Linked DNA regions of Homo sapiens: region 1 is linked to region 2. The links come from fine-mapping of genetic effects on gene expression. A gene starts in region 2. The other region holds a variant in brackets. All regions are shown on one strand. Distances are from middle to middle. Region 1 overlaps PLA2G4A (phospholipase A2 group IVA). Region 2 holds the start of PDC-AS1 (PDC antisense RNA 1).

Evidence for each region.
Region 1: its variant is fine-mapped to the expression of PDC-AS1 in lung (GTEx, PIP above 0.99).

What each region holds. Positions count from the first base shown.
Region 1 is chr1:186,885,006-186,896,993 of GRCh38, forward strand. PLA2G4A (phospholipase A2 group IVA) reads left to right here. Exons shown (of 18, transcript NM_024420.3): 4 at 8,006-8,154; 5 at 9,093-9,206. Among named protein-coding and RNA genes, the nearest start is that of PLA2G4A, 62 kb to the left of the region's middle. The variant G/A (reference allele first, on the strand shown) is at 5,613.
Region 2 is chr1:186,429,519-186,441,506 of GRCh38, forward strand. PDC-AS1 (PDC antisense RNA 1) reads left to right here and starts at 5,643. Exons shown (of 5, transcript NR_126002.1): 1 at 5,643-5,771; 2 at 6,840-7,055. It also overlaps a transcript of ODR4 not described here.

The DNA of each region.
Region 1 (11,988 bases), 460 kb after region 2:
GTAGCCAAGCAGTGAAGAGGCCAATAATCCAGCAGAGCTTTGTCAACCTCAAAGGACTTGGGGTATAAAGACTGGATTTTAGGACAAAATAAGTTGATTTTGAGAAGCCAAGTTCCTTGAGAGAAAGCCTAGAGAAGAAGTATGCCTGACAGCCAGCACCTTCATCACGAGGCACTAGCCAAATTCTTGATTCATGCAGGGCAACAGTCTGAGAAGCAAAAATAAAAACCTGAAAAACAGGACAAAGATATTGGCAGTCTCATAAGAGGAAACAAACAAACAAACAAACAAGGAGATCAGAGAGACCAAATTAAAAGGGGCCTAATAAATACCCTTGACTTTAAGTTGGGAGCCTTAGAGTGGGAGTGAACAAGAGGTAGACTAACCTTACAAAGAATGAAATCAATTCATTTGTTAAAATGCAATAGAGGCTATCAGTCCTACTTTCTCTGCCTGCCAGAGAATAAAGTGGGTCATCTGTGGAGGTAGATCTAGCTCTTCCATAATTTGTCATAAAAAAGTCTGGCATTCAGTCAAAGGTTGACTGAATTATAAATATTCAGCGGCTTATAGAATATGAGTGTAACAAAAATAAGATCAAGAAACAAACAGATCCACAAGTATTGGATATGGATCTTAAAATAACTAAGAGTAATATGTTCAAGAAAATAGATGCTAAGATGGAGGATTTTACCAGGAAACCAGATATATACAAAATAATCAAATGGAAAATTTTAAACTGAAAAACACAAGAAATTAAGAACTCAGTAGATGGTTTTACTGTAGTTTGAAAACAGTTAAAGAGAGAATTACTGAACTGAAAAATAAGTCTATAGAAAATATCCAGACTGAAACACAAAAGACAAATAAGGAAATAAAATATAGAATAAAAAGCTAAGGAATATCTGGGGTATGACAAAAAGCATTGGGAAGAGAGAGGGAATAGGGCAAAAGTAATATTTGAAAATATAATGGCTGGGTATTTTCTGTAGCCAATAAAATATATTGAAAAGCAAATGACCAAGAGTGGATTTCTCAACAAAACAGAGAGGAACCATAAGATATTAGTTGACATCTTTGAGGTGTGGAAATAAAGCAACTGCCAGTATAATCCTGAAGATATTGAACAAAGTTCCAGGACTTAGACTACCTGATATTACAATTAATATAAAAATATTATAATTAAGACAGTTTGGTATAGGCGTGGTATAGATGCAAGCTTAAATGATAGATTAATGGACTAATAGACAAACGAAGTCCAGAAACAGACTTACACTTTTATGTGACCACTTGATTAATGCAAAGTTTATACTGCAATGCAAGGGCTAAAGGCAGTATTCCCAATAAATAATGCTGGGTCTATTGGTTACACAGGGAAAAAGACTGAATCCTAACTCCTACCTCATACCTCAACCAGCTTAGTACATGGGTAGCGAAAAGGTTGACAATCGTAAAAGCTGCTCTAAGATCTCTGTGTGTAATTAGCAATGTTATTACATCATAAATATATCAAAGGAATGACCACATCTGAGAATAGTATTCAGAGGCATTTCGTTCAACAAATTTTCATTTAAGTTTTGGTCTTACTTCTTCTCGTTTAGTCATTTCTACTTTGTTGATAATTGAAGCATAACATTTGAAGAGCAGTCCATCACCTTAAACAGATTGCCAACTAACACACCCACACTTAATTTATTCTTGCATTTATTTTCTCGTGGCCATTTGAAAATGTATTTTATGTCTGGAGAGAAATAGAAGTAAATGACTGGACTGGGCTTAATCTAGTCTATGGGCAGAATAACTCCTTGACAGAAGAACAGTAACTTTGTTGCCTTCTCAATGTCAAAATGTTTGTAATTTTTCTGTGGGTGTTATTATACTCCTGTTCTTTAGTTCCTCGTAATATTATACCTTAAGCCCCTGTTCTTCAAATGTCTGAATAATAATCACCTGGTCAATTGTCAAAATGCAGATTTCCAGGCCCATGCTGGAGAATATGATTGAAGGTGCTAAGGTTCTGCATTTTTAACGGCACTGCAGATGAATCCGTGAAGGTCATGGTATTTCAATGGACTACATTTGGGGAAACACTGTTTTAAGCTCACTGTCATTGAACCATAGGTATTCAGAATGGGCCATATTTTGACTACACATTTGGGAGGACTTTCCCCTTTGGGATTTTTTTTTTCCTATTTATCACAAGAATTGTAACAAATTACTTGTAATCTGTTTTTCAAACAAGAGGTTTAAGTTGCTACTGATGAAGGGGAAATAGGCAAATAGAGAATATTTAAAATAGAGCTAGGAGTTTAGAAGCTGCCATGAGTTCATGAATCACATGATATATTACTTGGACAAAGCTGAAATGACAAATGGGTCTGTTATGACTTCAGGCAGGCGCTCCTTAAACTCCTGAAGTTTAGTAGTAAGTTTTACCACCCTGAAGCTATTTCTGGTGCATGTAGTTTCATGTCAACTTTATGGGAAGAAAAAAGATCTGTATTCCACACCCCCGACATTTTTTGTTTGTCAAGATTTAGATAAAAGGATGAGATGTAAAAGGGGTTTTTGCCCACATATTACATCTTTGCTTCACCACATGTTTGGCTGAAAATAATGAAGATGAGGCTGAGTTAGTGACTCAACACGCAATTGCCCTATAGGTGTTAATTGACAAAGCCATGAAATAAGTATAATGTACAGGAAAAAACAAATTCTACATTTAACTTTTTCTTTAATTCATTCCTTGAAACTTCTCTAAAGTATTGGGCTGTGTTTACTGTCAAAGTGGGCTGCCTTCCTTTTCAAATCTTCTAATTCTGTTTGCTACCATGCCAGTGATGGTTATAGATTATGCAAAGAAACTGAGCTATGTGATTATTGTAATCCAACTTTAAACTAGCCTCTTAAAACTTATTTTTATCCTATCTACCACTGTTATAGATATTTCTTAGCTTACAATGATTAGAGCTGATGCAGATTGCAAAATCAAAGTGTGCAGTTTTGGTAGTTTTCCACTGTCCAGCATCCTTTGACATCTTAACTCTGAAGTCTCTGGCTAAAGAATCAAGAGGAGAAATTAGAAACGCTGCCACTCTGGACATACATTTTAGAAAGCTGACTTACTTTCAAAGTAAAATTAAATAATGCAAATCCAACATGACAGCTATTAAACTGGATTCTGATTTTTTAAACAAAGTCTGTGGATGTTTTAATATATAAACATGGTGTGGGTATTGTTTTTATGGTATTTTCTTTATCATTTTGTCAGAATTAGAATTTGTTAAAAATATGACCCATTGAGAATCTAAAATGGCTGAGAAGATGGGTAGATAATGGTTTGACTCATGGTGCTTCTCAATTTGTCCTTTCCTTTTCCCATCTGGTGCCTTCCAAGGAACTTCACTTGCAGCTTGCTCCTTCTTGTTTGGGCCAAGTAGACCTCACCCTCCTCTTTCCCAAAGATTCAAGTAAAGATTAAGTCTGAAAAGGCAATTTCCCCACCTACGATTTGACCTTATTTGTGTGTAATAATCTGGGTGACTGAGTTACTAGTCACTGGGGTAGTGTAACTGCTTATCTTCAATTTACCTTGCCTCTAAAATTAGGCTATTAACATTTGACTCACTTCCATAATCCGAATTTTCAGTTTAGTGTTTGGCTCCCTATCAAGGCTGAACTGCTTGTGAATGAGCAATGCCTGGCATATAGTAGGCACTCATGTATTTGTTGAATGAATGAATGATGTTTGCCATTTGCATGCCTCCCCTTCCCACACACTCTTGTATTCCACGTTGGTTTTTGCTTGGCTTTGTTTTTTTTCTATTACTTCTTGGAAAATGGTTAAAAAAAAGAGCATTGGCCTTATGAGAAAAATCTGGCCCTATGAGATGATGTAGGGCTATGTTTTGTAACACATAATTTGAAGCATTAATTGAATACTTTCCTTAAAATTACATATTTTTCTTGATAATTTTCTACCAACTGCTATTCTAAATATGGAGTTTTACTTCTGATTTGCAATCCTGAGCACTGGTGATATGGTAGAAACATGGTTAAGGAAAAGAAGCAGTCACCTCCTGGTTGAAAATGTGATAATGTTACCCTATGACATGTTCTCTTCTTCTTTGGCCCATTTCACCTTATCATCCTTCCCACTCAATCTTTTTGTTCTCTAATTTGTATTCCATGGTCCTGTTGAGAGTTATAAGCACTGAGTTAGAAATGAGAATGACTGGCTTTCCCCTTTTGTCTAAAATAGGATATCAAAAGTGTGACCAGAAGATGATCCACATCAGTGTCAGCTAGACTATTTGTTAAAAATTGCAAGCCCTTAATTCCACTACAGATATGCAGACAATGGGTCTTCGGGGATGAAGGTCGGGGTCTATGTTTTTACAATAACCCTGGGCATTTGTGTTGCACTCTCACTTTTGCCCCACTGCTCTTTACCAATGATGTATAAGGTCCAAGCCGGAAAATTAAAGGCAGCCTCAAAGGCTGATACCTTGTTTGTAGATCCTCCCGTTTTATAATAACAACCACTAAACATACACATGCATCTAAAGAAGCTGATGACTACATAAAGAACTAGGAGCAATACTGAACAATTAAGTGAAAGACATTGATTACGTTTTTTGATGACCATAGCTGTTGTTGACAGACAACATCTATTTAAATTTTTTTGGGGGGGAAACCCAATCAATAGGTCAGAAACTATTATTTTTGCTTTTCCTTTATTTTCAACTGTTGGATCTTTTTGTTTAGACCTCTGTACTTCTTCTCTCCCCCCTCCCTCCCTCACTCTTGCACTCACCCTCTCTTTCTCTTCCTCTAATTCCAGCTCCTCTTTCCATAGAATCCATACCCTGTAATCTAATTTTTGTTACTGAGGAACATGATGTAATAAGAGAATGATTGTTGTAGTCAAATGACCCAGGTTCAAGAACTTGACCTGATACTTATTAGCTATGTGATATTGGACAGAATGCTTAATATTTCTCAGTTCCTGTTACTTTAACACTAAAATAAAGTACTTACATTATAGCGCGATTGTGAGATTTAAATGAGACTAATGTGTGTAAAGTACTTAACACAGATCCCTGTAGTCATTACTTAGTTATTTGTTGTTTTTGTTATTAATTATAATGGCCGCATGGAAAAGCACCTGTTAAACGGGAAAGTCAAGTCGATAGGTTAGGAAACCTTAAATATTGTAATTGTCGCTTTCTGTTGTTAGCTTCTGAAGATGTACAGCTGAGGAAGACAAGATCTTTGCCCTCAAGTTGTTTATAGTCTTGTAGGAAAAGACAGATAGATGTATAATTTCATCCATAAAGTATAGTGTGTCCAGTGCTGTAAGACATTAAAGGATTCGGTGGAATCCTAAAAAAGGAGTGATCAATACTTGCACAGTTTGGGTCACTCGCTTTGTTGCTAAGTGTATATGTAATGGGAGGAAATTAAAATAATTTCTTTATTTGCAATTGTTTTGTTCTATTTCAGTGGGCACACATATCATACCCTGATTCAAGTGGGTATTTATGTGAAATAGAAAAAACCGTTACTGGCCGGGCATGGTGGCTCATGCCTGTAATCCCAGCACTTCGGGA[G/A]TCTGAGGCGGGCAGATCAGGAGGTCAGGAGATCGAGACCATCCTGGCCAACATGGTGTAACCCTGTCTCTACTGAATATACAAAAATTAGCCGGGCATAGTGGCATGTGCCTGTAATCCCAGCTACTCTGGAGGCTGAGGCACGAAAATTGCTTGAACCAGGAGGCCGAGGTTGCAGTGAGCTGAGATTGTGCCACTGCACTCCAGCCTGGCAACAGAGCAAGACTCTGTCTCAAAAAAAAAAAAAAAGGAAAAGAAAAAAATTGTTGCTTCATAGAGACACCTCATTTCCATCTGAATATTGCCATAATAAATACATGTTGATTTTTAATATGAGTGCCACCCCTTAAAGTTGTTCAGTGTACAACCTGTACAACCATACAAGGCAACTCTATAACAATAAACAATATTCTTCTCACAATGACTTCCATTATTTTATCTGATAAAGTAAGCAGGATGATTTTTCTAACATTGACAAATATAATCTTTTTTTTAAAAAAAAGTATTTTTCAATTTTTTTTCTTTTTTACTTTTTACTTTTACTTTTTAATTTTTATGGGTACATAGTAGGTGTATATATTTATGGGGTAAGTGAAGTGTTTTGATATAGGTATGCAGTGTAAAGTAATCACATCATGGAGAATAGGGTATCCATCCTCTGAAGCATTTATGATTTGTTGCAAATAATCCAATTACACTCTTTTAGTTACTTTTAAGTGAACAATTAGGTTATTATTGACTATCGTCACCCTGTTGTGTTATCAAATAGCAAGTCTTATTCATTTTTCTGTTGTGTTTTTTTTGTATCCATTAACCATCCCCACCTCCCCTCCAGCCCCCTACTACCCTTCCCAGCCTCTGGTAATCATCCTTCTGCCCCCTCCATGGGTTCAACTGTTTTGATTCTTAGATCCCACAAATAAGTGAGAATATGTGCTGTTTGTCTTTCTGTGCCTGGCTTATTTCACTTAAGATAATGACTTCCAGTTCCATCCATGCAAATGGCGAGATCTCATTCTTCTTTATGGCTGAGTAACACTCCATTGTGTATATGTAACACATTTTATTTACCCATTCATCTGTTGATGGACACTTAGGTTGCTTCTAAATCTTAGCTATTGTAAATAGTGCTGCAATAAACACAGGAGTACAGATATCTCTTCAGTATACTGATTCCTTTTTTTTGAGTATATACTCAGCAGTGGGATTGCTTGGTCATATGGTAGCTCTATTTTTAGGTTTTTGAGGAACCTCCAAATTATTCTCCATAGTGGTTGTGCTAATTTACTTTCCCACCAACATTATACAAGAGATCCCTTTTCTCCACATCCTTGCCAGCATTTGTTATTGCCTGGATATAAGCCATTTTATCCAGGTGAGATGAGATCTCATTGTAATTTTGATTTGCGTTTCTCTTATGATTAATGATGTTCAGCACTTTTCATATGCTTGTTTCCCATTTGTATGTCTTCTTTTGAGAAATGTCTATTCAAATCATTTGCTCATTTTGTTGGTTACATTATTAGATGTTTTTCTACAGTTTTTTGAGCTCCTTATATATTCTGGTGATTAATTTCTTGTCAGATGGGTAGTTTGCAAATATTTTCTCCCATTCTGTGGGTTGTCTCTTCATTTTGTTGATTTTTTTTCCTTTGGTGTGCAAAAAAGCTTTTTAATTTGATGTGATCCCATTTGCCCATTTTTGCTTTGGTTGTCTGTGCCTGTGTGGTATTGCTCAAGAAATTTTTGCCCAGACTGTTCTCCTGGAGATTTTCCCCAATGTTTTCTTGTTGTAGTTTTATATTTTGAGATCTTAACATTTAAATTTTTAATCCATTTTTATTGATTATTGTATATGGCAAGAGATAGGAGTCTAGCTTCATTCTTCTGCATATGGAGATCCAGTTTTCCCAGCACCATTTATTGAAGAGACTGTTTTTTCCCCAGTGTATGTTCTTGGCACCTTTGTCAAAAATGAGTTCACAGTAGGTCTGTGCATTTGTCTCTAGCTTTAAGCCCATGATCTTGTCACTATCACAGTCCTGGGTGAAGGTCATGTTGGCGTTAGCTGGGTGACATTGTTATCATCCTGTAGTAGCTTGACTGAGATGTTGACTGCTTTGAACCTGTCCTCTCTAGATAGATGGAGGAATTCTGAATAAATCACTTAATAAACAATTCCCTCTCACAGGACTATTATGAAGGACAGCGACATATGTAAAAAGTATCTACCCTATGATGTTTTTCTATTATGTGTATATTATCTTGTCTCAGACATTTAAATACATCACTACAGATTCATTGAGAATAAACTGACAACATATATTAATAAAAAAATTAGGAACTATGAATCACATTTCTACCTCCTTCTTGTTTGTGTTTACTATCTGTAGTTGATACTCCAGATCCCTATGTGGAACTTTTTATCTCTACAACCCCTGACAGCAGGAAGAGAACAAGACATTTCAATAATGACATAAACCCTGTGTGGAATGAGACCTTTGAATTTATTTTGGATCCTAATCAGGAAAATGTTTTGGAGGTAAGTGAACCATTTGGATGCTGTTAGATGGTTGTGATTCATGTTGAGAGACATGCTTGAGTTTGTCCTTTTACTGCCTTTTTGTTCCTGTTAGCTATAGTTGGAGTTAGACTGGGCAGCTTGGTAGACTAGAATCTAAATGGTGTCTGTCAAGTAATATGAGTGTCTATCAGGACATACAGGAGTTAGGTAGGGTTGGGAAAACTGCTGTCCTCCCCACGTGCTTTGGAGAAAACATATTTTCTGCTATCAAGGAGAGAATCCCAGTATAACAGAATAAAAATATTTTAAATTGCCTTTTTAAAAAGTGAAAATTAATTTTTCCCAAAATATTTGTATCGATTTTCTGCATTAATATCTTTCTCATATTCCAAAGTAGAGAGGAGATAAAGTTTCGTTTTTGAAAACATGATAATTGAATAAATCAATCAGGAAAATGTGAAAAATTATTATCTTATAGCAAACACAGTACTCAGAAGGAAAAGATTGGCCGGGCACTGTGGCTCACCCCACAGCATTTTCAGAGCACCAAGGCAGGCAGATCACTTGAGGTCAGGAGCTCGAGACCAGCCTGGCCAACACGGTGAGACCCTGTCTCTATTAAAAATACAAAAATTTGCTGGATGTGGTGGCGCTTGCTTGTAATCCCAGCTACTCAGGAGGCTGAGGCAGGAGATTCGCTTGAATCTGGGAGGTGGAGGTTGCAGTGAGCCGAGATCCCGCCACTGCACTCCAGCCTGGTGAGTGAGACCCTGTCTCAAAAAAAAAAAAAAAAAGGAAAAGATAAAAGTATTGTTACTAATTAAATATTGAGATCTTCAAGGACTCTTAAATATCATTTGAGAGCTTCATTTTTTTAAATGTGGTGGAAATTATAGATGTCATTTCCAAAGATCCATGGGAAATTTTATTTTTGTGCTTTACATTTTACTCTGTAGATTACGTTAATGGATGCCAATTATGTCATGGATGAAACTCTAGGGACAGCAACATTTACTGTATCTTCTATGAAGGTGGGAGAAAAGAAAGAAGTTCCTTTTATTTTCAACCAAGTAAGTAACACTGCAGAATTATATTCCAACCTTATGTTAGATAAAGTCTATTGATTCTGGGAAGTTGGGTTTAACACTTGGAAAATTGTATTTATTTGTTCATAGAATGTTTGCTTTTTAAAGAGAAAATTTTGTTTTTCTTTTTACTTTTTGTCCTAATTTTAAAAATTATTCTGACATCTATAAACTTTGGTTGAGGTATTATACCAAACACTACTAAGGCTTTAATCTCCTTTGTTGCTCCAAATGATGACATTGGGATTCAGCAATGCCTTTGGACTCTAATGGCAAAATTTAATACAAAAAATTGGGGAGGATAAAAAGACATGCAAAATCTGAGAGCTGGGGGCAGAGAGAGAGAGAGAGAGAACAAGTAAACAAACTCAGTGGAAAATGTTAGGAAATTCAGACTATTCCAAAACCACATGTTTAGTAATAAATCTCTCTGGGGGAATATTTCTGTCTCAGAGAATCCTCAAGTAAATAGGGACAAAGCAGTGAAAGGCCAAAAGGATTGATGGGAGGTTATTGTTATCTTTGACTTTCTAGGTTTGCTACATTTCTGAAATTTTGATAGTTTATTTTGGAATAATGAAACCTTAGGTAAATAATTTTGTACAGAATAAACTCATTGGATTTTGAATTCTGTAAGAAACTAATTTAGTAGTTTGTAGTAAGAAATGTAAACAACTGGTGGGCCTGTATGTGTAAGGCTGGTTACCATACTAATTTCTTGTTGTTGGGAGAGACAATGTGTCTCTGCGCATCTTTAGAATGACTTTCCAAGTCCCTACATTCACCTCAACCTACCTCTCCCTTAACTCTCAGCTTCTCCATGTTGCCTTTCCTGTTACTGTCCCAAATGAGTCTTCCTCCTTTGAGTCTCCATGATAATTATCTATGGTATTCATTGGGACTACATTATTTATACTGTTCAATGTTTCATTTTCCTCTTGTAAACTAAAATCCTCTAAGTCAGGAAACTTGAAATACTGATTAAATGTGCCTACAGAATTAATTACATAGATGACATTTATGGAATGAATGTGTACCTATTTAGAAACCAACTTAGCCCAAATGAGCTTCTTGACTAGTCCATGCAATCAGAATGGCCCAGGTACCTTGAGGATGCTCTGGTCCATGCACTCCTTGGTGCTTCCACCTGCTGCAGAAAGCATTTCTTCTGTCTCATGCCAAGAGATGCACTCACCACAATTCTGTCGACCCCTTTTAAAGCTATTTCATTCATTCCTTTTACAAACATTTATTGAAGATCTGCTGTGTGCCAGCCATTGTGTTTTGTTCAAGGAATATAGAGAATAAGGTACAGGAAGTTCTTCCCTCAATTATCTCCCTCTGGGAAGGAGGTGAGTAAAGGTTGAAATGAGAAGTGGAAGTAGGGAGATACATACGTGTGATAAAAAGAAATCCCCAGACAGTGAGATAAGTACCAATGAGACATGTATAGAGTGCTATGGGAAGGCAGAATAAAGAACGATTGTGTTGTGAGAGGAGGCTAGGGATGCCTCCATAGCAGTAGCTGATTTTGAACAAGTTGAACAGTGAACTGTGGTTAACACTTTGGCATTGAAAGACAGGCTGTTTGGTGTTTAAATTCCAGTTCTGTTCCTTGCCATCTGTTTTATTCTGGGAAAATAACACTTAACTCTTCCGTTCCTCAGTTTAATCATCTGTAAAATGGAAATAATATTTTCTAAGGGAATCATTATGATTAAGCAAGTTAATTTTATTTATGTATATATAATACATGCATATGATAATATATAATATAATGTATATTACATATGAATACATTTAATTATAATTTGATATATTTTATGGTTCAGTATATACTGACATATTATTTAGTTTATATATTAAGCATATAATTCAATAAGTGATTGAAAGTGATTAAAAGTATGTTAATACTATAAAGTAATTAAAATAAGTGATTAAATATATCGATACTATACACATATAGATGTGCACATGTATACATACAGGGCTTAGAACAGTTTCTGGTACGTATTAGGCACTATATAAATGTTACTTGTCATTGTTGCTGTTATTACACCTTAAGAAAAGAGCAGGATTTCATCAGTAAAGTAGTTATGAGCATTCTGGGCAGAACAGATTGCTGAAGGCCAGAGTCTTGAAAGAAGAAAGCAAGCTGGGGCATAGCAAGATAAAGGGCTTGGCAGATCCATTTTGCTGAATCATAGGGAAGAGAGTGTAGAGGTGGTCAAAGGCTAAAATCTTCAGGCCTTAGTTATTGCATGTTTCTAGCATAGGCTCTCAGTAAATGTCTGTTGAGGGCTTTGGAAGCATGGATTGGACCTCCTGAAATCATTTTTCTTTTCTTTCTTCACTTTAGTTCATGATACAAAGACTGTTTTTGAGAGAAGATATTGTGGACAACATTCATTTCCTCTCCTCTGTCATTTCCTATGGCTAGATGTGTAATCCCTAGGGCTCTAAAAAGGCTTTCCACATTCCTGAATTTAAAGAAGATTATGTAACTATTTTTTTTAGTGTGCCTGAGAAAATAGTTGTCCAAGCAGGCTTTTCTTCATTACTCTGTTTTCAGACTTCTTTGTAGTTTTATCTGAATGATAATCCTTTGAGCTGCAGGGGTAGTTGGGAGAGAAGTAAGCATGATGGCTAAGGGGAGAGTCCCCTGCTTGTTCCTCAGATCATGTGGGAGTGCCCTGTGCCAGCCACCCAGCTATCCAGCCTCTGCCCTCAGCTTGGAATCCCAGTCTTCCTGATGATCTTTCTACAG
Region 2 (11,988 bases):
GTTACTACAAAAAAAAATCCACATATGACCCTTAATCGCAGTCTGTCTTTTACTACAGTGCCTCTGTCTTCCTCTTTTTCACTGTGACAATTCTGGGGACAAATAAAATGTCTTTTCTTTTACCTACCCCTACAATCCTCAATAGTCAATAGGTTCATGACTATATCACCAACATAGCTAGGAATAATCAAGCCCTATTATAATATAATGTCATTATGTTTGCTGACTCTTACCTAAAAGATTTGTCTAAATATAAATTAACCAATGCATAATAAATACCTGGTAAGTTGTTCTTGATTTCTGATTTTAACCTAATAAATAATTATGTTGGAAATATCAAGTCTGTTAATGAATATTAATCAAAGGTGGTCAATGAGGTCTCATAAAATTTATAACATTTTATTAAAAGGTAAATTAATATGTTAATAGGTATTGATTTGTTAGTTGTTAAGAACAAAGGATGAAAGTAGAGTTAGAAGTTACAGTTGTTTGTTTTTGCCATTTTGAAAGTGTTTCAGTTTCATTATTTCATTGGATTTTTATAACAGTTTTGTATTGTATGTAGGGAAAAGATTTGTTAGATTCAAATTGTATTAATATAATAGAAATAGACTTTGATTATTATTCATAAGGACACATAGAGTAGATATTTGGGTAAATAACTATTATCTTTGTCTTAATAATCAGAAGTAGATTATTTCTTCTTTTTTCATCTTTGTAAAAATATAGGTATTTTATTTACTTAACACCATTAAATGAAGCTAGATTTTGTACTGTACTATGGAACTTCTGATCCCAGAAGAGCACTGTACAAAAATCCTTAATTAAAAAGGCTTGGTATTTTAGAAAACTATCCTTTATTCAACTTGCTCAATTTGTTGAGGAGATTTTTTGTTTACAGAATGGTGAAGAGGAACTTAATGATAGAGATGAAGGTAGTTTAATCAGGTCTTAGATTCTATTTTAGGCAAATCCAATTTAGTTGTAGAAACACCAGATGCCTACCCCCATGATTAAAATTCTGAATGTCAATAAGCTAAGATGTTAGACTGCAATTTCTGTGTTTAACAAAAATAACCAACATAATTTTAATATTTTTTTCTGTGCTTTCAAGTTAGCACTATTAAAATATTTTCTAGTTTTTAATTATAAGTAGTTAATAATTATGGAGAATTGAGTTATATTCCTAGATCTGCCAAAAGAAAAATAATAAAACCTTGTGAAGTCAGTTAATTCCTTTGATCTTTAAGTGGGAACAAATTCTAACATTACACTAACTCTCAATAAATAGTGCTTTACAGTTTACAAAGTATTTTCATTTCTATGTCACCCTCCCTCCCTTTTTTTTTTTTTGTTTTAATAATTCAGAAACAGGTTCAGGAAAGTCATTTTCTAAGCCTAAATATTACTGTGCATATACAGATTAAGGGGAAACATACTGATGAAAGGGAATAATTAAGCGTGTAGAAACAAGATAGATGACTGTACACAACTAAGAAAACATAAACATAAGATTTTTGGAATGTTGGAGAGGATACACTTTAAAGCACAGGTGGCTCTTGGCCTTTAGAGAAGGAACACCTCTTCTAGCATAATAGCTCAGAGGGGGAAGAAAATAGGTGTAAATATATACGGACTTGTAGGTGTGCTGGTGAAAAGTTGAAGATAATCTCATCTGATGCTTCAGATTTCTATAAAATTGTCAAGGTCATCTTCCAAGAGTGAAGGATGATGAAAATAAAGATTTGTAAGAAGTATTGCAAAGAATGGAATATCAAGTGGCCAAAGAAAAATCGTGGAATTGCCAGAGAGTGGTAAAAATCCTTCTGAGGTTAGTAATCACATGATTAAGTTGTGTATTTTTCCCCCAGCAATCTTTGTCTTCTCGGATTCAAGAATAGAAAAAAATGAAGAGCAATATTTGGGAGGCTTATCTAATAGACAGATGAGTTGAAATTAAAAAAGGTCATAGAAATTTAGTTTAATGATGGCCACAAAACTTAAGCAGAAAGGTAGAGTAATTAGAAGGTCAATATTTGTCAGTTGCAAGGATGGAAAAAAAGTGATACATACAAATAGCATGACCCTAAAAGATATGTAGTATTTTTATGGAAGCCAATGAGAAGAATAATCTGGGGTAAGGGATAGTGTCACTAATGATATTTGAATTCTGAAATAATACAAAATCACCATTTGCAAGCTTAAAGAGAAAGTGTACCCTCTTTGAAGAGGCAGATTTCAGTAATGGCAAAGATGTGGAAGGAATTCTTGGATAAAAGGTTGAAAATAGAGGGAAATTCTGATTTTAGAGAGCAAGGAAGTACAGACTTTCATGGGGATGGTGTAGTAGAGTATTAAGGCGAAGGGCAAGCTGGGAGTGGGCAGGAAGTAGGGAGTGGGAAAAGTTGGTAGGGGGCTTATGTTTTAGATACTGATTGTGATTAATGCAAGATTAAGAATCATGGTGGGTTCAGTTTCATAGTTTTTGAGGATGTTAGATTCTGGTTCTAATAAAGAATTTGTCTCATTCAGCCTAAGTGAGTAATTACCTCAGTGGGAACAAGTTTTGGTAGCTTCTCATATATGGCTTGGAGGTGGGAGGGGACCTAGGTATTGATGCCAGCAACTAAAGACATTAAGGCTACAGTAGGAACATAACCTATAGCTACAAACTGTGAGCTTTATATATCCAACCTTATATTCCAGGTAGAAATCCAACTTGATCATGTTTTATCTTTTACATACACTGTTGGATTTGACTTGCTAATATTTTATTTAAATTTTTTGTTTCCATACTTGTGGAAATATTAGCCTGTAATTTTCCCTTCTCATACTGCCCTTGTCCAGTTTTGGTACAAAGATTATATGAGTTTAATAAAATGAGTTGATAATTATTCTCCTTTTCTGTTCTCTGAAAAAGCCTGTGTAAAATAATGTTTCTTTTCAGATTGATAGAATTAACTTATAAATACATCTAGGCCCTGTGTTTTTTTGGGGGGTAATATTTTGTTAACTACTGTTCTGGTTTCTTTGCTGGTTACAGGGCTATTCAGACTTTCTATTTGTCTTAAATCAATTCTGGTAAATTATATTTTTCTAGAAATCTATTTTTTTTGTTTTCAAATTTGTTGGCATTAAGTTGCTCATAATATTTTATATCATTTTTATCTCAGCTCTATCTAAGCATGTGTTTTAAAAAATTTTTTTAATGTTGTTTATTTATGCTTTTCTCATAGCCACCACACCCCCTGCAGTGAATCTGGCAGATTTTTTTTTTTTTTTCTTGAGACGGAGTCTCACTCTGTCACCCAGGCTAGAGTGCAATGGTGTGGTCTCGGCTCACTGCAACCTCCACTTCCTGGGTTCAAGCAATTCTCCTGCCTCAGCCTCCTGAGTAGCTGGGACTACAGGCGCATGGCAACACACCAGGCTAATTTTTGTATTTTTAGTAGAGATGGGGTTTCACCATGTTGGTCAGGCTGGTCTCGAACTCCTGACCTCAAGATCCATCCGCCTCAGCCTCCCAAAGTGCTGGGATTACAGGTGTGAGCTACCGCACCCGGCCAGATATTTAAAAATCTTATTAGAGAACCAATTTTTGGCATGTGAATTCTATCTATAAAATTTATATTAATTTATGCATGTACTTATTTCCTTATGTTTGTACTTTGTGGGTTTGCTTTATTTTCTTAACTTAGTTGGAAACTCAGGCCATTTGTTTTAAGTCTTCTTTTGTAATTTATGTTTTTAATAGTAATATTTTCTTGATGTTCCAAAGTTTTGATATAAAATACTCTTATTTTTTTTTAAGTTTTAAGAATTTCAGATTTCCAGTATAATTTATTCCTTGAACACAGAAGTTATTTAGATGTATGTGTATTTATTATTAATAGCAAATACATATTTGTAATTAATTTCTACTTAATTGCATTGTGGTCCTAAAGAGTAATTTGTCTTACAGTATACTAGTTCATTATTAACTTTTGAAAATGTTCCTTGTGTGTTGGAGGTGGAAAAGTGGCTACTTTACTAATTATTAGTTACAATGCTTTATTTTTATTATTTTATTATTATTATTTTGAGACAGAGTCTCACTCTGTGGCGCAGACTGGAGTGCACTGGTGTGATCTCAGCTCACTGCAACCTCTGCCACTTGGGTTCAAGCGATTCTCTTGCCTCAGCCTTCCAAGTAGCTGGGATTACAGGTGCCTGCCACCACACCTGGCTAATTTTTGTATTTTCAGTAGAGACGGGTTTCGCCATGTTGCCAGGCTGGTCTTGAACTCCTGACCTCAGGTGATCCACCCACCTCGGCCTCCCAAAGTGCTGGGATTATAGGCATGAGCCACCGCGCCTGGCCAGTTGCAGTGTTTTTAATATGTCCTTTAGATCAAACTTGTTAATTCTGTGGTTAATATCTACATAGATACTAATTTTTTGTTACGCGATCTAGCAAAGGTTCAAAGAACTGCACTGAAATTTCTGATGGTGGATTGCCACTTTTTTCCTGTAGTCTGTCAGTTTTTACTATGTATATTCTGTGACATTTTATTAGCCATATATATGTTTAAAATTTTTAGATCATCCTAGTGGTACTGTACCATTTTATAGTTATGTAATAATGTAAGTAATATTATGTATATAAGATATATTTCTATATCTAATAATGCTTTTTCTCTTTAAATGTATTTGTCTGATATTAATTGATACTTGCTTAAAGAATTGTATTTGCTAGATATAGTTTTTCCATCATTTTACATCTTGCTTTTCTGTATCCTTATGTTTTGAATGTATCTCTTTTGAATAGCCAATACCTGGGTTTAAAAAATGTCTAATTAGACAATATATACCTCATAACTGTTAAATTGAAATCATTTATGGTTTTTGTTACTATTATTATGTTTGGAATGATTGCCTCTTTAAATTCTTACTCTGGAACTGGAAAGAATGGTAAAATAACTCTGGTTTCAAATAGAAACTCCTTGCTGCTCCTTCAGAGAAAGCCAAATGGAGGTTTAAAAGTCCTTTCCATTTCCCTACCAAAACAAAAGCAACAAAAAAGAAAATTAAAAATCCTCATTCTCTGGAAATGCTTGAAGAAGGGAAAAAATAAATTGGAGATACAATGATTGGCAAAAATGACATCTTTATTTATTTTTAATAAAAGATAAATGTAATGTAGAGCCATGGCCTTATTCTTCTAAACTTCTGTGGGACTTACACAGTTTATTATGTAAGTCTCTGTAATTCAAGTTACCCGGAAAGTTCAATTTCATGTGTGATTATTATTGCCTATTGAAAGTGCATCTGATTTGTTATAACAGGAACCCTGTAGGGGAAATAATTGTATGTTGTTAGCAATGAATATATGTAAACCTTTAAAAATGAATTAATGTTTTTGATATAGCATGTTTAATTCAAGCTAGTCTGTGTTCAATTATTGGAAGCAGGGAGTGAACGCTCTAAGAAATAAAATAACCTAGGGTGAAACACCTTATTTTATGAAAAACTAATTTTTAGGAGCATTTTCTTTTATACTATGTAAAAAAATCCCTGAAAGATGAACAGACTTTGACAGCTGTTATAGGTGAGAGCCTCAAGTAAAGATAAAATTAAATGTTTTCCTTAAATGCTATTGCCCAAATAATGAATATCCATAATTGAAAACTGAGATTACCTTATACTTTGCTTTGTTCTCTCTGCCAGAGTCCTACCCACTGTATTAGTTGTTAGAGTTGTGGAACTTAACCGAAGCTTTCTCTGGATTCCAGGTAACTTTGTTCTTTTGTTTTTGTTTTTTTCCTGCAGAATCGATATATGGGCCTGAAATATATTAAGGTAGATCTTCTAATCTTAGATAATCCTGAATTTTTTTGTTAATGCATTCTTTGCATTGATGATTGCCAGTATGAAGTATGCTGTGATATGAAAAGCACAGGAACCAGGGATGGGAGGCCCAAGGTTAAATTCAACCTCTATATCTTCCTGGTTGCATAACCTGGACTAGTCAGCTAACCACAAACACTTCAATTTTGTCATCCTTGAGGAGGACATATTGAAAACATTGTTCTACCTACCTCATAGAGCAATTGTGTCTCGTAGTTCTTCCAGTGAGATAATGTATGTGAAATAATTATGTAACATAACACATCATAAAAATGTTGGCTATCTTTGGTGCAACAAAGCTATTCCACAGCATGGATTATACTGTCTTTACATCAATTCTTTAGTAATTATGAACATACATAGTATTTGACTTTTATATATGTTTCAGGAATGCAATATCTAACTTATTCATGAGGTACTTTATTTTCATAGCAAGGCATATAAACAACTACCTATGACAAATGTATTTGTTCTTAAATGATTTTTCAAATTTTTGTTATTAAAAGCACAGGAGTTACTGCAGTAGCACCTATCTTGAAAAGTCAAGTTAAAATGATTATTGTTTGTGTATATAATATATGTGTGTGTGTGTGTGTATTGTGTGTGTAATTTTTTCAAATCCAATTGTTGTAAAAGATAACTGTTTTGTCATAGAGCCTGCATATTTTTATCTAAATATATGTTCGTACCATTTTAGTCATTATACTCTTTTCACGTTTTAAACTTCCAGTTAGAGACCAAACTTTTGAAAATTGACTAGAGAAATGCTGCTGTTGAGTTTACTTTCTTCTGAAAGAATATCTTTTCCTGTAATGGGAGGTACAATATTTCTGTACAGAGCTACTTCACTCCCACAAGTCATAGGTCATCAAGAAGAGCATCTACATCCCCAAATGTTTCAGAGTGTAAGTCAAAAACTCTTACAATTCCACTTCTTTTCATGTGTCTCGTAGATGTTTTAAGAATATTTTCAGCTGCATGGCTTGACAGCCTTGGGATTCCCTCACACATTCACAGTCTTTTTTGGATCAGTCTGATGTGAGCATGAAAACTGGGAGTTGTGGAGCCCACTTAGGAAATGATTGCAATTGTCCAGGAGACAGATGATGGTAATTAAGTTTCCATCAGCCTGGAACTCAGGACAGAAGATACATATTCTGTATGTAGAGGTAAGCAGTTCTTTCCTGGGGATGATTTTTACCTTCCAGAGGACAGTCGGCAATGTCTGAGGATAGTTTTAGTTGTTGCAACTGAGGGAGGGATGCTAATAGTATCTACTGGTTAGAGGCCAGGAATGCTGCTAAACATACTATAATGCACAAGACAACTCCCCACAGCAAATAATTATCTGGTCCAAAATGTAAACAGTGGTGATTTTCAGAAGCCTCGGTGTAGATGGTACCTGAAGTCGTCAGAGGGAATAACAGCATCTGAAGTGTGAGGGAGGAGACTAATCCAGAAAAACACCAATAGACAAGGAGCATGCATGCCCCCGGTCACAGAAGCAGAGAAGAATCTGTAGAGTGGTATTATGAAAACCAAAGTGAGGAAAGAATTTCAATTTGGGATTGGTAATCAGCATTCAATGTAGCCGAAAGTTAAGTAAGATGAGGACTGTTGAGTCTAACAGGCTTGGTGGTTAGGTGGTGTATTGGATATTCTCCATTTGCTTCTTAAAATTCACGTTCTATCTTTCTCCATCCTGTTTTATCCCTAGAGAAGGTTGACTTAACAGACTTCATCAACAGGGTTCTCTTGTCCTCTGGCTTTCAGCTGGATTCTGACAATGAAAGGTTCTGAAAAGAGATAGAAGAGCACGAGGAGAGAGTGCAAGTTGTTTTTCCCTGAAGCTCTGTCCCTCCTGGGCCACAGAGTGACAGGGGCAGTGTTTCTCTTCCAAAAGCAAAAGCTCCTGTTGGGCAGCTTTTTCCTATAGCTGCAGGTCTCACTGGTTTCTTGCCCCCTCCAGGCCTGTGGGTAGGAGTCACTTTCACCTGTTAATAGGTGGTGCTTCACTATCTTTTGTTAGTTTCCTGCCTAGACCCTTGTAAACAGTCTTTTTTTTTTATTATACTTTAAGTTTTAGGGTACATGTGCACAATCTGCACGTTAGTCACATATGTATACATGTGCCATGTTGGTGTGCTGCACCCATTAACTGGCCATTTAACATTAGGTATATCTCCTAATGCTATCCCTTCCCCCTCCCGCCACCCCACAACAGGCCCTGGTGTGTGATGTTCCCATTACTGTGTCCATGTGTTCTCATTGTTCAATTCCCACCTATGAGTGAGAATATGTGGTGTTTGGTTTTTTTGTCCTTGAGATAGTTTCCTGAGAATGATGGTTTCCAGCTTCATCCATGTCCCTACAAAGGACATGAACTCATCATTTTTTATGGTTGCATAGTATTCCATAGTGTATATGTGCCACATTTTCTTAATCCAGTCTATCATTGTTGGACATTTGGGTTGGTTCCAAGTCTTTGCTATTGTGAATAGTGCTGCAATAAACATACATGTGCAAATAGTCTTCTTTAAACTCCCTTCAATCATACCTTTTCTGTTTGTGTTGTTTCCTTCCAGGGACGTGCCTGACACAGAGGTCATTGCTGATCTGTATCAGAACCACTTTCAGTGGAATAGTTGAGGCAGATAGGTGGAAAAATAAATGGAAAGAAAGGAAGAAGATTAAATAAGAAAAATTGAATTTTTGTTTGTTTGTTTTTGCAAGGAGTTTTGGGAATGAAGAAGAGAAGGAAAATACTGGAGACAATAGGTAGTAATAATTTGGAAGAACCAAGACAAGTTTTTAAATAAGAGATAGAAAGTTGTTTTTAGGTTGTGAATAAAAAACATGGAGGGGATAGAACTGTAATATGAATAAAAAAGAAATTTGAATGTATTATAATCCAATTAAAAGCACAGATGACAATATTAGTCTCACATAGAAACACATCTTTGAGAACAATAAAATGGAAAATAGCTGAGTTAATAGATGTGGGGTAAGAAATTAGGGAAGTTCATGCCTGGTGGGCTCAGTGTCTACTGGGATGTTGAAAGAAGGTCGTTTAAGGATGTAGGAGAGGGAGACTGAGGAGAATAATGAAGGTTTGGAATAGCTGCTGTGGGAAACGGAAGAGGGATCTGTTTGCAGAACAAGCTATGGACCCCAGTTGAAGAGCACTGATTGGTTGATATATGTATGAAATTTTGAGGAAGATACAATTTTGTTGAGTAGGACTTACCAGCTAGTAGTTAGGAAAAGAGAGATCAGATGGTTGAAATGATTGGAAGTTTGGGGATTTAAACGATAAGTGCTTTGGAAGAATAAAGGGATAAAAATGGGGGAAGTGCCAGCAGGAAGGTGATTGATGACATCTGTCAAGTGTTTAGGCTGCACAGGAAGGATAGAAACAGGGAAAGTGGAGAAAGGCAGTGTCAAACAGGCAAGGCTGAGAAATTGCAGGTCTTAAACAACGTGTGGTTTGGTAGAAAAGAATTGAGAGGGCCGGGTGCGGTGGCTCAAGCTTGTTATCTCAGCACTTTGGGAGGCTGAGGCGGGTGGATCACTTGAGGTCAGGAGTTCGAGACCAGCCTGGCCAACATGGTGAAACTCCATCTCTACTAAAAAAGTTAGCCAGGCTTGGTGGCAGGCGCCTGTACCCCAGCTACTCGGGAGGCTGAGGCAGGAGAATCGCTTGAACTTGGGAGGCGGAGGTTGCAGTGAGCTGAGATCATACCATCATTGCACTCCAGCCCAGATGACAATGTGAGACTCCGTCTCAAAAAAAAAAAGAAAAAAGAAAAGAAAAAAATGAATTGAGAGAACTGGAAGGGTAGATGACTATCATCAGAGAATGGTATATTGAAATTGAAGGGAAGTTGGCAGTAAAAGTAAAAAGAAGAACTGCATGCCAGAATATGTTAGTTAATCAGAGGGGCATGAGTGGATGACAGTTTCTTCACGGAAATCCAGTATAAGCTGGGTTCCAGAATATAAGATCTCAACATTAATAAATAAGTAAAATTAAAATGTCACTATATCTTTTAATTTAAGAAATGTGTGCTCCCCTCTTAGACTGTAAATCTGTTGAAAAGAAAGAATGATTATATTATACATTTTCATCATCTCTTCTATTATTTAACATAATTCCTTGTATGTATTAGACACTCAGACATTTGTAGAATGTTTGAAAGGGAACAAAAATATATAAAATTTGTATCATGAGATAATGTATTAGATATATTTGAATAGATAAGTATACGATTAAATTTTATTCTATAATACATTCAGTATAAAACTTCAAAATGAATTTCTTATTTATGTGCTAAACTTTATTTTGTTTTCAGACTTAATTTAATTTGCTTATTGTGGTATCTACAGTCATTCTGAAATGGCAGTTTTTTGGGACTTCTCTCTTTCAATTCACATACATGAAAGTTTGAATAAGTTTCTAATACAGAGAAATGTGAGTGGTGTGTTTAGCATAGATTAATTGAATCCCAACTTCTTAATAAATTAACTTTTATTTACATAAGCAGATCCCTAAAATCGTATATCTGTGTACTGTATGCACCATTTTACTTCATGTATATCTATTAATAATAATGAAAACTAACATTTGAGTAATGTCAGTGTCAGGTACTGCTCTAGTTTACATAATTTACTCATTTTTCCCCTCACAACAACCCAATGAACATGTGCTATTATTTTTCTTATTTTACAGATGAGGAAACAGTAGAGAGGTTAACTAATTTGCCCAAAGTCATGAAATCAGTGAATGAATTAAAACTTAGGAGATCTGGTGTTCAAGATACTAACCACCATTACAGTATAGACACATGGATACAAATGCCGATGCGTTTATCTTTGATTGCTTGTTTGATGTTTGTTTTCTTTACCTTAAGATCTCTGAGATCAAGGACACTGGCTGTTAAATGGCATCTTATCAATAAGTATGTTGTGAACAAATAAATGAATGAGCTTCTGACTTTACAGGATAATTTTGCTATTTCCTCCAAAGTTTCCTATTAGTTTACAGCTAACACTCTTGGCTTTTCCTTCAAGTCCATTCCAGTTATTATTTGGGTGATTTGTTATGAGACATGTTATGACATTTTAAGCCTTTACATTTAAAACATCATCCTTTTGCTGAGACAATAATGATCTCTTCTTCTCCTCCTCCTCCTGCCAAAAGAATTGCAGATTAAGTGTTTACACGAGGGCAGTTTGTAATCCAGTATTTCTGCAGCAGCAGGCTTCAAATATTCTAGGCAAATCCTGCTTTTTGTTCAACTCTTCCTGATGAGTGTTGTGATTAAAGCTTCACCTTGGCATCCATTAGTCATCGAGTGCTTACTTTGAGAATGGTTGCTATCATCATTTACTCTATAAACAGGTGCCACCTAGTTACTTTTGTTTTGGCAATTATGGGTTAAATACATTCCTGAGCCTAGTCCTGCTTAAGCTTGCTAGTTCTCTATTTTAAATTAAGGCACGGTAGGTTATTTCTTTCAAGAGTAAAGGTTTCTTTAAGTAGGAATCTTTCAAATTACTCATTTTTACTCATTTTGATTCTTGTTTTCTGTAGATGAGTCTTTCACTGTTCAGCCTTGCTTTACTGTGCCTGGCTGACAAAACTGCATTACATCGCAGTTAACAATGGCTAATGATTAAAAATAACATATTTTATTCTTAAAATATTGCTCTCTTTTAAGATGCTTATTTGACTATTCTTCGTTACTGCCTTGCTACCATTCTTCTAAGTATTTACTTTCAGTCCATGGAATTAATGTCAATTTATAAAGAGTTGTTCCACTGAGGAGTTTTTGAATTATAAATATATTATGCAAGGATCCTGTTTTTTGCTACAGTTTTTTAGGTCCAGTAATTCCTTAGCAAAGAACTCTGTATGGGATTAATACATTTGTTAGCAATTACTTGATAGGAGAAAACATGTTGAACTATTACTTTAAAGCTACTTATTTTATATATAATTACCCTGAATGTCTCCTTTCTAGCACTTTTTCTCCATGTGATATGCCTGTTGTTCATCAAGTTAGAAATAGTCCATGGGGCAATTAAAATTACTTTCCCAGT